Linked DNA regions of Homo sapiens: region 2 is linked to region 1. Evidence: fine-mapped expression QTL. A gene starts in region 1. The other region holds a variant in brackets. All regions are shown on one strand. Distances are between the middles of the regions.

The links. PIP is the estimated chance that this variant, and not a neighbour inherited with it, causes the effect.
Region 2: its variant is fine-mapped to the expression of NCOA7 in whole blood (TOPMed, PIP above 0.99).

What each region holds. Positions count from the first base shown.
Region 1 is chr6:125,787,785-125,793,165 of GRCh38, reverse strand. It overlaps NCOA7 (nuclear receptor coactivator 7), which reads right to left and starts at 2,206. Exons shown (of 16, transcript NM_181782.5): 1 at 2,099-2,206. RefSeq lists enhancers at 1,624-1,723, 1,919-2,419, 2,420-2,920 and silencers at 1,944-2,783, 3,374-3,473.
Region 2 is chr6:125,812,094-125,817,474 of GRCh38, reverse strand. It overlaps NCOA7 (nuclear receptor coactivator 7), which reads right to left. Exons shown (of 16, transcript NM_181782.5): 2 at 2,071-2,184. The coding sequence starts at 2,120. The region is part of intron 1 of NCOA7-AS1 (NCOA7 antisense RNA 1); the gene reads left to right. Among named protein-coding and RNA genes, the nearest start is that of NCOA7-AS1, 4.1 kb to the left of the region's middle. The variant A/G (reference allele first, on the strand shown) is at 2,348.

The sequences.
Region 1 (5,381 bases):
AAATTAATTTTTTTCATAAGTTCCCTCCCACTGTTGGTTCCTGCAGTCTTATTAACTTTTATAGGAAAGTTTTATTTCCTTATCCATCTAGGAAGAAAATAAGTAGGTTGGAGAAGCAATAGTAATAAAGTATGGCCTACCATATTGTGTAAAAATAAGTCATTTGAGTAATATGAAGTGAAGATGGTAAAGATGCATTAAAATGTCAGAAAGAAAACCTGGGAGCATGCCCAGATAATATTGTTAAGCAGAGACTGAAAGAAGTTCACACTGACTCATGAAATTCATGTGATGGAAAAAAGATGAAATCAAAACAGAAAATGTCATAGTGTAAAAATAAAGCAAATAAAGTTTGATGCAGTTAACCTTGTTTTTCTTTTTTTTTTTCAAAATGATATAACATTTTAAAGCAGGAAGACACTGTATCTTGCAAACCCTCATTTCACAATCCCCTGGCTGTCAAATTTGGAAACTGATGTGTTTCTATACCGAGGAGAAAACAGTTTAAATTGTGTATCTATATCACACATTTTGAATCATTTAAGAATCACAGACACTTCTACATGTTTTATTTCTACTTTTGCCTGTGATAAAAGACATGATAATTAGATCAAACCTGAAAAACTCAACTCTAAAATAAGTGAATACATCACTTATTAACCAAATCATTGTTTCCTCTGGCGTAACTTACAATTTTCTTTAAAACACGACTTTTACTTTTTAAATTGTGTTTGAGAGCACAGTTGAAGTTGGCATGATTACCAGTGAGACTGGAAATTTTGCAAGCTTAGACATGAAATGAACTTAAGAGTTGGGGAGAATTACCTCATAACCTTGATGACATATTACAGAAAGATAGCATATGGTCCTAAAGATGTCAGAATTGAAATATAAATGTTAAAATAACTGAGTTTGCCTATTTATACAAAGAGGCAATTTTTGAAATTCAATTAAATTTCACCGGCTACAGAACAATTCTGTGATTCTAAATTGTGGTTTTTAGATGAAAGCTTGAAACACAGTTCATTCATTCAACAAATAACTAATGGGTACTTATTCTGCATAAGATGCAGAAGATTACAGGATTTAAAAAAAAACAGATTCAAGATTCTGTCCTATTTGAGCTTATACTGAGTCACTTCTCCAAATCTCTATACCTAAGTGACTATAAAATTGGAGCTTACAGTGATGCATTTTTCAAAACTTTAAGCCTTATTGCTGAATATAAAATAAAAAATGATAGTCTGGGAAGAGGGAATCTTGCCAAAAGCTCTGATGTATAAACTTTACACCTAGAGGAGAAAAAAAGCATTAATACATAACCAGTTTCTGAGAAATACAGAGCATAACATCGAGTTGGAAGTTAGGCTGGGCACAAGGCTGCCTCTGCTGGCTGACCCGGTACATCTTTCCAGCAGAATCTCAACTCCCGACACCTGTATCAAAGTTGCCACTCTTAAAACACATCCCTTCACGTAAGCAGAGGCTCCTAAATACTCAGCACAACAATATCCCAGCCTCATCGATCTCCAGAATAATCTGACTTCTAGAAGGACCTTCTCTAAATTGGCCCTAACGTGTTGACGGTAAGGGTTTGCCCCATCGATTTTATATACCAACTAGCTAGCTCTGAAATACACAAAAATCCACAGCGACTTCTACATGCCACTAATAACCCTTTGCCTGTCTACATGTTTTGGCTAGAAAGATGGGAAGAACGCATCTGCTAATCCAGCCGGAAAAACACAGTGACATATTTCCACCTGAGCTGCTGAAAATCCAACGGTCTTCTCCCCAAATAAGCCCCATGCCAACCTGTCCTCCCCACTCTCGTACTGGCGCGCACCCCCACGAGCCCCCCAAGGGGTGGGCGGGGAAGGGTCAATCTCTCCTTCGCCCCCGCTCGGCCTCCCGAGCTCAAGCAGAGGTTTTCAGGTTCACAGGGGGCTACGCCCAGCGCCATTAGCACACCTCCGAGCGCTCCACCGAGCCCCCGGCGGGAGGCAAGTTTGGCCGGTCCTGGACCCTGCTCGCGGCCTCTCGGCGGCAGCATCAGCGGCGGGCGGCGGCGAGGGCTGGGCCCCGCCTCACCACCTACCTACAGGGCGGGGGCGCCGGCTCCTGGGGTCCGGGAGAAGGGGATCGGTCGCATGCATTTCTGGGAGCGGTGGCCTCTGCTGCTGGGCGCCGGGGAGCGCATCCTCTCGGCGGGTGGAAGGAGGGGTCAGGGGAGGACCGTACGCCGAGGAGGAGCAAGAGGAGGAGGCGGGAGCTCCGAGGCGCGCGCCCGCGGGGCCCCGCGTCCGGATCGGGTGTGCGCAGCCGCCGCAGTCGGGGTGTCTTAGGCCTCTTCCCACGCGCGACGCCTCGCCAGCCCCGCAGCTGCGCCCCCCGTCAGGGCATGGGCCGCTACGGGGTCCCGGGCCCGGCTGAAGGCGGGCAGTCACGGGTGGCGCGACGCTGTGCAGACGCCCGCCTCTAGCTCCTCCCGGCCAGTGGCGCGCGCTGCGCCTCACAGCGGTTGCGGGGGCCTGGGAGCTCGCGCCGGGCTCTGCCGCTCGGACTGCAGTTGCGGCATCCTCCCCGCCCCCCGCGACCTCCGAGCTGGGAGGCTGGGCACCCCGGCTACCCGCGGCTGCTGCAGCCTCCGCTGCCGCGATCCCGGCGGCTCCGCCCCGGAGAGCTGCGCGTGCGGCCTCCGCAGGCCTCGGCCCTTTGTGGCGCCTCCCGAGTGCGGGCGCCTTGCTGCCCCAGCGAACCGCCGCCTGGCAGCGGCACCTAGGAGGGTCCTCTTACCTCACCCCGGGCCGCTTCCCCCTTACAGTTGGCCCGCCTGGCCCCTACTCTTCGTGGGAAGTAAGGCTTTGACAGCAGAGCAGGAGTTAGAGCTTTTCCCCAGCTTTAAAGCCCTTTGACTTTCCTTCCAGCTCAGGACCGATGGCCACAATAAATTCATCCTGTGTCCCTTCTGGCGTTGCGTTTAACAGAGGGGCCCACCATCTCCTTCCCCCTCCCGTTCCCGGTACACCATCCTGGATGCTGCCAAATTGCAGTCATTACAGCAATAAGAACATAGCAGTTGGGCCCTCCAGCCGACTCTTGGCAGAGACTCGAGAGAACCTTGGAGGGGGAAGGTTTGCATCAGCTGCGGGGCCTGTGCCTGTGAGCTCCCCATCCCCAGTTGGGTGCTGTTCCCTCTGCGGTCCCATGACCAGCACTGCAACATGACTAGGAGGATCTGGCCGTGGAGTTCATTCACTCTTATACGCAGAAAAATATCCCAAGGAAGGGCCTGCAACTACTCTGTTAACAGTGTGTTACAGGCCTTCCACACAGATAAACTAGATAGCAGCCTCCTCTGGGTTGTTGACGCAGCTTAAGCTGTAATAACCTCTCTGGAAGGCGGAGCAAAGCGTTAACAGTGGTGGCTTTGGCATTTCAGCAGCAGGTGGTCATGTTATACTGTCTTGCAAATGTGGAATAATTGCCCAGTTTTGCACTAAGCACGTATTAATTTAGACGTCAGGTTTATATCTTTGGGATTTGAATGTAAAGATGTTGGATTTTTTTTTTCTGTAGCCATTGTGTTATTTGTAAATTGTTTAGCATTTAGTAAGGGAAAATTAGGTTCCTAAAGTATAAAGAGCTGATTGCATTGTATCAAAGGAACATGGTTTGAGATCTCCAGGGAAGCTGAGCTGCTCTCACAGTTCTTTGATGAGTGCTTTTATGATTTTGCAATCTAAGGTTATTGAAAATCAGGCAAAAGAAAAACATGTTCCCTGGCAAGGACAAATTGTGACTAAATAGCTAAGATTTTTTGAGATAGTTCTTTTAAGCAAATTGAAGGTTGGGTGTGAGGCCCTGTGGGAGCTGCACTGCGCTTGTCCAGGAAGCACCCAGTGGGGTGTGACTTGGCTGCTTCCTGACACTGGTTGATCTAGAGCCCCACTTTATTTTCAAAAGATAACTATTATTATTTATGATATTTTCCCAAACTTAGAATTACTTGATTATAGGAATATGTATGTACATATCTGATGTATAAGTAACACGTTGAAGTCACTTAGGAGAATTTGGCAGTTGCTTACTCTTTAACAAAATTTTTAAGTTTTGAATGTAGTTTCTGAAGGAAGTGTCCATTGACTTACAAGTTTTCCCTGTTTCTCATCCTTTTACTATCAAGAGGCCCCTGTTGTTTTTCTCTCTATGGACTCCATGTTTTGTAAATAAATTAAGCAGTGATGTTTTTATTAGACAAAAACCTATAACTGAGTATGAATTTTTAAAGTTGTGACCATCAATTATAAAACGTCAGTCTTCTGGCCAGGCGCAGTGGCTCACGCTTGTAATCCCAGCACTTTGGGAGGCCGAGGCGGGCGGATCACGAGGTCAAGAGATCGAGACCATCCTGGCCAACATGGTGAAACCGCATCTCTACTAAAAATACAAAAAAAAAAAAAAAAATTAGCTGGGTGTGGTGGGTCCTGTAGTCCCAGCTACTTGGGAGGCTGAGGCAGGAGATTCACTAGAAACCGGGATGCAGAGGTTGCAGCGAGCGGAGATTGCACCACTGCACTCCAGCCTGGTGACAGAGCGAAACTCCATCTCAAAAAAAAAAAAAAGGTCTTCCAAAGATATTGCAAGGAATGTAAGAATCCATCTTTATGAACTCCTCTAGGACTGCATGCTGTATCATATGCTTCTTATAACATTTTTATTATACTGAAAGTCCTGATATAATAAAGATTTCTGCTCCCCAGCTAAGGGAGTACAAACTCCTCCTAAAGATTCTTCACTTGTTCCTTTCCATTAACTGATTTACCTAAGCCTTGGCTTTATAGATAAATCGGAAGAAATGAAACTCTTCCTTGCATGTGTTGTCCAGTACTGTATGCCTTAGCTACTTGTAGCCGTTTAAATTTAAATTATGGCTAGACTGTGCTTTTGGATAGCACAAACTAGAACATTTTCATTATTGCAGAAAATCCTTTTGAACAGTGCTGCCCTAAATAGAAGGTCAAATTTTAATTGGGAGATAAGATATAATACATGAAATAATTTGGGAAATCTTAGTATACTACAGATCAAACCTCAGTAGAAAGTGTACTTCTTAAGAACATGGTAATCTTTAAGAATTCAGGCTCTGGCTTCAGACTACAGCTCCACCACGTGCTGACCTTGGGTAAACTACTTAACCTCAGTTGCTTTATCCGTAAAGGATATGCTTTATCCATAAAGAATGGTAACAGTACCAACTTTATAGGGTGGATATAGGAATTAAAGGAGATAATCCCAAGTGGTTCTTAAAGTCTAGAATGTGGCCATCAATCAAAGGTATTACTAGAATAATATACTTTATTATGATAAAGTTTTTAAAA
Region 2 (5,381 bases), 24 kb before region 1:
TACATACTTATCAGAATAGCTAAGATAAAAATAAAAAATATTGACACCACCAAATGACAATGCAGACAAACTGGATTACTCAGACTTTGCTGATGGGAATGTCAAATGTTACAACCATTCCAGAAAAGAGTATTGCACTTTTTTATAAAACTAAAAATACACTTATCTTTTGACCCAGCAATTGCACTCTCAGACAATTATCTCAGGGAAATGAAAACTCATGCTCATACAAAAACTTGTACATAAATGATTGTAGCATCTAGCATCTTTGTTCATAAATAGCCCAAACTGGAAACAACCTAAATGCCCTTCAATGGGTAAATGACTAAAAAGCTGTGATTCATCCATACTATGGAATGCTACTGTGCAATAAAAAGGAACAAACTATCGATACATGCAACAGCTTTGAGGGATGTCAAGGGAGTAATGCTGAAGGGAAGAAAAAGCTAAATGCCAAAGGTTACATACTATATGATTCCATTCACCTAGTATTCTTGAAATGACAAATTATAGTGGTTGTCAGAGGAGGCAGGCAGATGGAAGGAGTGAGTAGGGATACAAAAAGGTAGCATGTGGGATCCTTTTAATGCAACTGTTCTGTATCTTGACTGATGGTGACCACAGAAATCTACATGTGATATAACTGCATGGAACTAAATACACACAAACACACATACAATGAATGCTCTGAATAAGGCTGGTGGATTGTATCAATATGAATTTCCTAGTTGTGATACTGTACTATGGATAAAGAATACAGGGTATCTATTACTCCTTACAACTAACTACATGTGAATCTAAAATTATCTCAAAATAAAAACTTTGGAGATCTTATTTATTCTAAATATCCTATCTTTCTGGTGCCTCATCCATTAGATGCCTGATGTCTTCCTTCCCTAATCTGGTTACTCTCTGTAGTCATAATAGCAGAAAATATTTTACTACAATTGGTAGTTTAACTTGTGCTTCCCCAAAACCTTATTCATGATTTACTATTCCTAACTGGAGCATGCCTTTTGGAGATGGCCTTATGTTTAATACTGACTCTTATGCTGCATGAAATGGACAAAATATTTTCTGAGTCTTAGTTGCATCACTGGTAAAATGGAGATAAATTAACCGATGTCATAGATTTATTTTGAAGGCAATTAAAATAATAAGTAAAACACTCAGTACATAGTAGGTCCTTAAATTGTTTCTGTCCTTTTCCCATTATCAACCTAAAATCTAGCTTAATTACTAGATAAAAACATCAACAACAAACTTTGGTTTTGGCTCCAAGGCTCATGTTTAGAAAATAATAAATGCATCTCTAATGAGCACAGCCTGGGGACTGGGGATGGAATGAGGCTAAATTCAGTTCTTAACATGTATTTCAATTTAGGAGAAACATAATGTTTTTAAGCCTATGTTCTCTGAGTCTGAAAACATTCTGGCTTATCAAAATGTTTTACAAATGTTTAGCATATAATTCATTTTATTATGTTTAGTGAGTGCCACATAGACATTTAAATCTGTAAATGGTAACCAATCATATACTACATTACTTCTATTCAGATATCAACAAATTTATTTATGTTGGACAAGTTCCAGCCTTAAAAATGACTCTGATTCAAAAATATAATTTCACCCATTTCACCTACCTACAAAAATATTTCTTAGTAATAGACTCCCCACAAGGTGATAAGCTTTAAATGTGTCAGAGATTTTCAGTTATAGTCCAACCTATTAAGCTACAGAACAGTAGGAACAAAGCACTTAGGATTTAAAATTCAAGGTAGGTTGCTAAACATGGGATTTGGAGCAATTTGCAGGTCAGAGCATGACAGCTGGATTCGCTGAGCAACACTGGCCTGAGAGAAGTGTCAAAGCTAGAAAGAGAAGAACCAAATGTTACACTCCTCTAATATGAATAAAATGGATGAAGCAAAGTATAGTTTACTTCTCCTGGTTACCTGCTCTATTTATGAACAAGCACAAAACACAAAATGCGAAGTAATACTTGAGGACAAAGTCCCCTCAAATATTTCTTTAAAGTACTGATAACAATTTTGTAAAATGAATGCTTACCGAGCAAAATAACTTTGTTTCCGTTCCTTCTTCTCTTCCTTGGTATCCATAATACACAATCAAAAGTGCAAAGTATTTGAAAAAGTCCCTCTTTTTAATCAGTGAGTCGTAACCCTGTAAGAAAAGATAACAAAGCAACTGTAAACTTAAAAGTTTACACTGGCCAATGTGAAAAATAAAATGGAGTAGAACTACATGGACTAAAACAAATGAAAAATAAACTTTAACCAGGAAACAGTCACATGAGTCAAATATGAAATGCAAATGTCCATGGGAG[A/G]AACTACAATCAGAATGGAGATGTTAAACTATAAAGCAAAACCTGATGGAAAACCAAACTGCAGTATTTTCCTCACAACTAACAACTATTTTAAAACATGCCAAAATAAAAACCTTCACTGACTTTGGAAGATTGTAGCCTAACTATGTAGATGCTAATTATTTAAAAAAAAATTGAACTCATAATCACTCTTCCCAAGCAATTAATAAGGCATATGTCTCAGATAATTATGTAAAATGGCTCACTTAGGTGTTTTACAAGAATGTTTTTTTAAAAAAATAAAAATAACTTCAGCACTCTATTTTATTTTCGGAAACATGCCAGCAAGTACATCCCACTTGAGCAAATGTGGAAATGAAAGTACAAAGACACAGGAAGCTGTTCCTCAGCATGGCTTTAAACCCTTGCGTCTCCCTCTTCTCCACCCCTGCGACCCTCACCCACGCTTGCCAGCAGTGGCTTAAGCCTATAATATAAAAAAAGGTTGTCTCCAGATCAAGCTTCCTCAAATACCACTTTTATCATGCCACTCCCCTGCTCAAAAATTTCCAATTGTCTACTTATTCAGTGATTCACCAGTCTAAATTTCTGCAGAGCACTAACATTCCTAAAATTTGTCCTTTCACCCTGAAGCAATAGTTTGTTCACCTATCAAATTTAAATCAAAAAAAGCAGGCTGTGCGGTGGCTCACACCTGTAATCCCAGCACTTTGGGAGGCCGAGGCAGGCAGAACACTTGAGATTGGTAGTTTGAGACCGGCCTGGCCAACAGGGTGAAACCACATCTCTACCAAAAATACCAAAAATTAGACAGGCATGGTGGTGCACGCCTGCAGTCCCAGCTACTCCGGAGGTTGAGGCGCGAGAATCGCTTGAACTCAGGAGGCAGAGGTTGCAGTGAGCCAAGATGGCACCACCGCACTCCAGCCTGGGTAACAAAGGGAGACTCTGTCTCAAAAAAAAATTAGTAAATATAAATAAATAAAGCAAAGTGTATTCACAATCAAAATTATTTACTAATTCATTTCAATTCAATAAACAAATTAATCCACAATACATACTACATGAAAGGGAGTGTGATAAGTCCCAGAGGTCAAAGATAAAGACATGATATTTGCTCTAACAGTATATATTGTCTTTCAGGAGAGACACTTAGGATTTCAAGACAATGTGATATGTACTGCTGAAAAATAGACCTCAGGAATACTTAATTAGCTAAATTTAGCCATTTTCTAATGTATATTTTCAAAATATCATTAAAAAAACATATATATAATTTCTATTTGCCAATTAAAAACAAATAACACTTAACACTATGCAAGGCCCACCCCAGGTATCCTGAGCACACACTAAGGTTGTAGGTTAAGAATGGATTTCCGGCCAGGCGCAGGGGCTCACACCTGTAATCCCAGCACTTTGGGAGGCCGAGGTGGGTGGATCACCTGAGGTCAGGAGTTCGGGACCAGCCTGGCCAACATAGTGAAACCCCATCTCTCTAAAAATACAAAAATTAGCCGGGCGTGGTGGCAGGTGCCTGTAATCCCAGCACTTGGGAGGCTGAGGCAGGAGAATCATTTGAACCTGGGAGGCGGAGGTTGCAGTGAGCCGAGACCACTCCATTGCACTCCAGCCTGGGCAACAAGAGCAAAACTCCGTCTAAAAAAAAAAAAAAAAAAAATTGCATTTCCCAGGTAAAGGGTACGAGCAAGCAGGTTTCAATTGAACAAAAGCAAGAAGACAAAATTGTTCCCTTCTGTTCCAGGGTAAAGTGAGCTGAGGATGAAGACATGGGCAGGATCTGGGTCACGGAAAGCCTTGTATGCTGCTCTAAGGAGCTTGGACTTAATCCTAGCTGGCTATGTGCAGCCCACCCCCTTCACTGCACCTTGTCAGAGGCCATCAATTGCTCATGCTGAACCCAGCGGCAGCATTTGCAGAGCCATTACCAAATCCATCAGAGCTGGTCCATGAGATAAAACTAATTTTCTCATCCCCAAGGTACATGGAAGGGCGCCACCAGAGGGTTCTCCATGAGGGAGTGTAGCATAATCAGACGGCAGAGGTAGAGGATTGACGTGAGAGGATTTAAGGACAGGGTGAAGTAGATTCATTAAAAAGAAATTACAGTCAAACTAATTGAGGGAGGAGCACCCAAAACTAGGCAGCAGTAGTTGACATAGAAAGAGGAGGGATGGACTCAAGAAATACTTAGGAGACTGATGAGTTGACATTTGATGAGTCATGCAGTGTAGATAACAAGGAAAGTAAGGAATGAAGGATGTCCTCCAAGTTTCTGCTTCAGGAACTGCGTGGGTTACGGCACCGAAGATCTAGTACAATATACATGAAAAGGGCAGGCTGCATGTAGGACAGGGGAGCAGAAGGAGGTAAGAAATCGGTTGTGGACATTGTGCCTTTGAGACGGCTATGGGATAGTGGAGTTGGAGACATTCACCAGACGTTTGATTACACTGAAAGCACAGAAGGGCAGTGAAGGCTAGAGGAAAGGAATTAGAAATTATCAGCATATGCTTGTGGTTAGGAAGAAAAGGAGAAAAAACAATATGATGATGAGATCACCTTGGAAGCCTGACAACTATTCATTCAGCCCTGTACAGAAACATGGGAGTACACAGTCTCAGCTCTTACTAGTTTATCTTCACATCCCTGACTTGGGCTTCACCCTCAAAGAGTTTTCCATCCAGTCAGGAAAATATGACTGTGCAGATAACTAAACTGTAGGGTAGTAACTTGGGGCTGTCCAATGAATAATACTAAGTAAGAATCCAAAAGATGTGAAGTTCAATTCTGCTTGAGGTGATAAACCTTTCAGAGTGGTTAGGATTTCAATGGGTAAAGTGGTTAGGATTTCAATTCCAGAAAGTAGGAATGCCAGAGCAAAGGGATAGAAGTGAAAGGGGCTAGGCACACTCAGGCAAGGAAAGCATGGCTACCAGGTACGGAAAGGGAACTAATCTTGATGCCTGCCTACCAACAGCCATTTACTTCAACATATTATCCCTATGTTATCTTT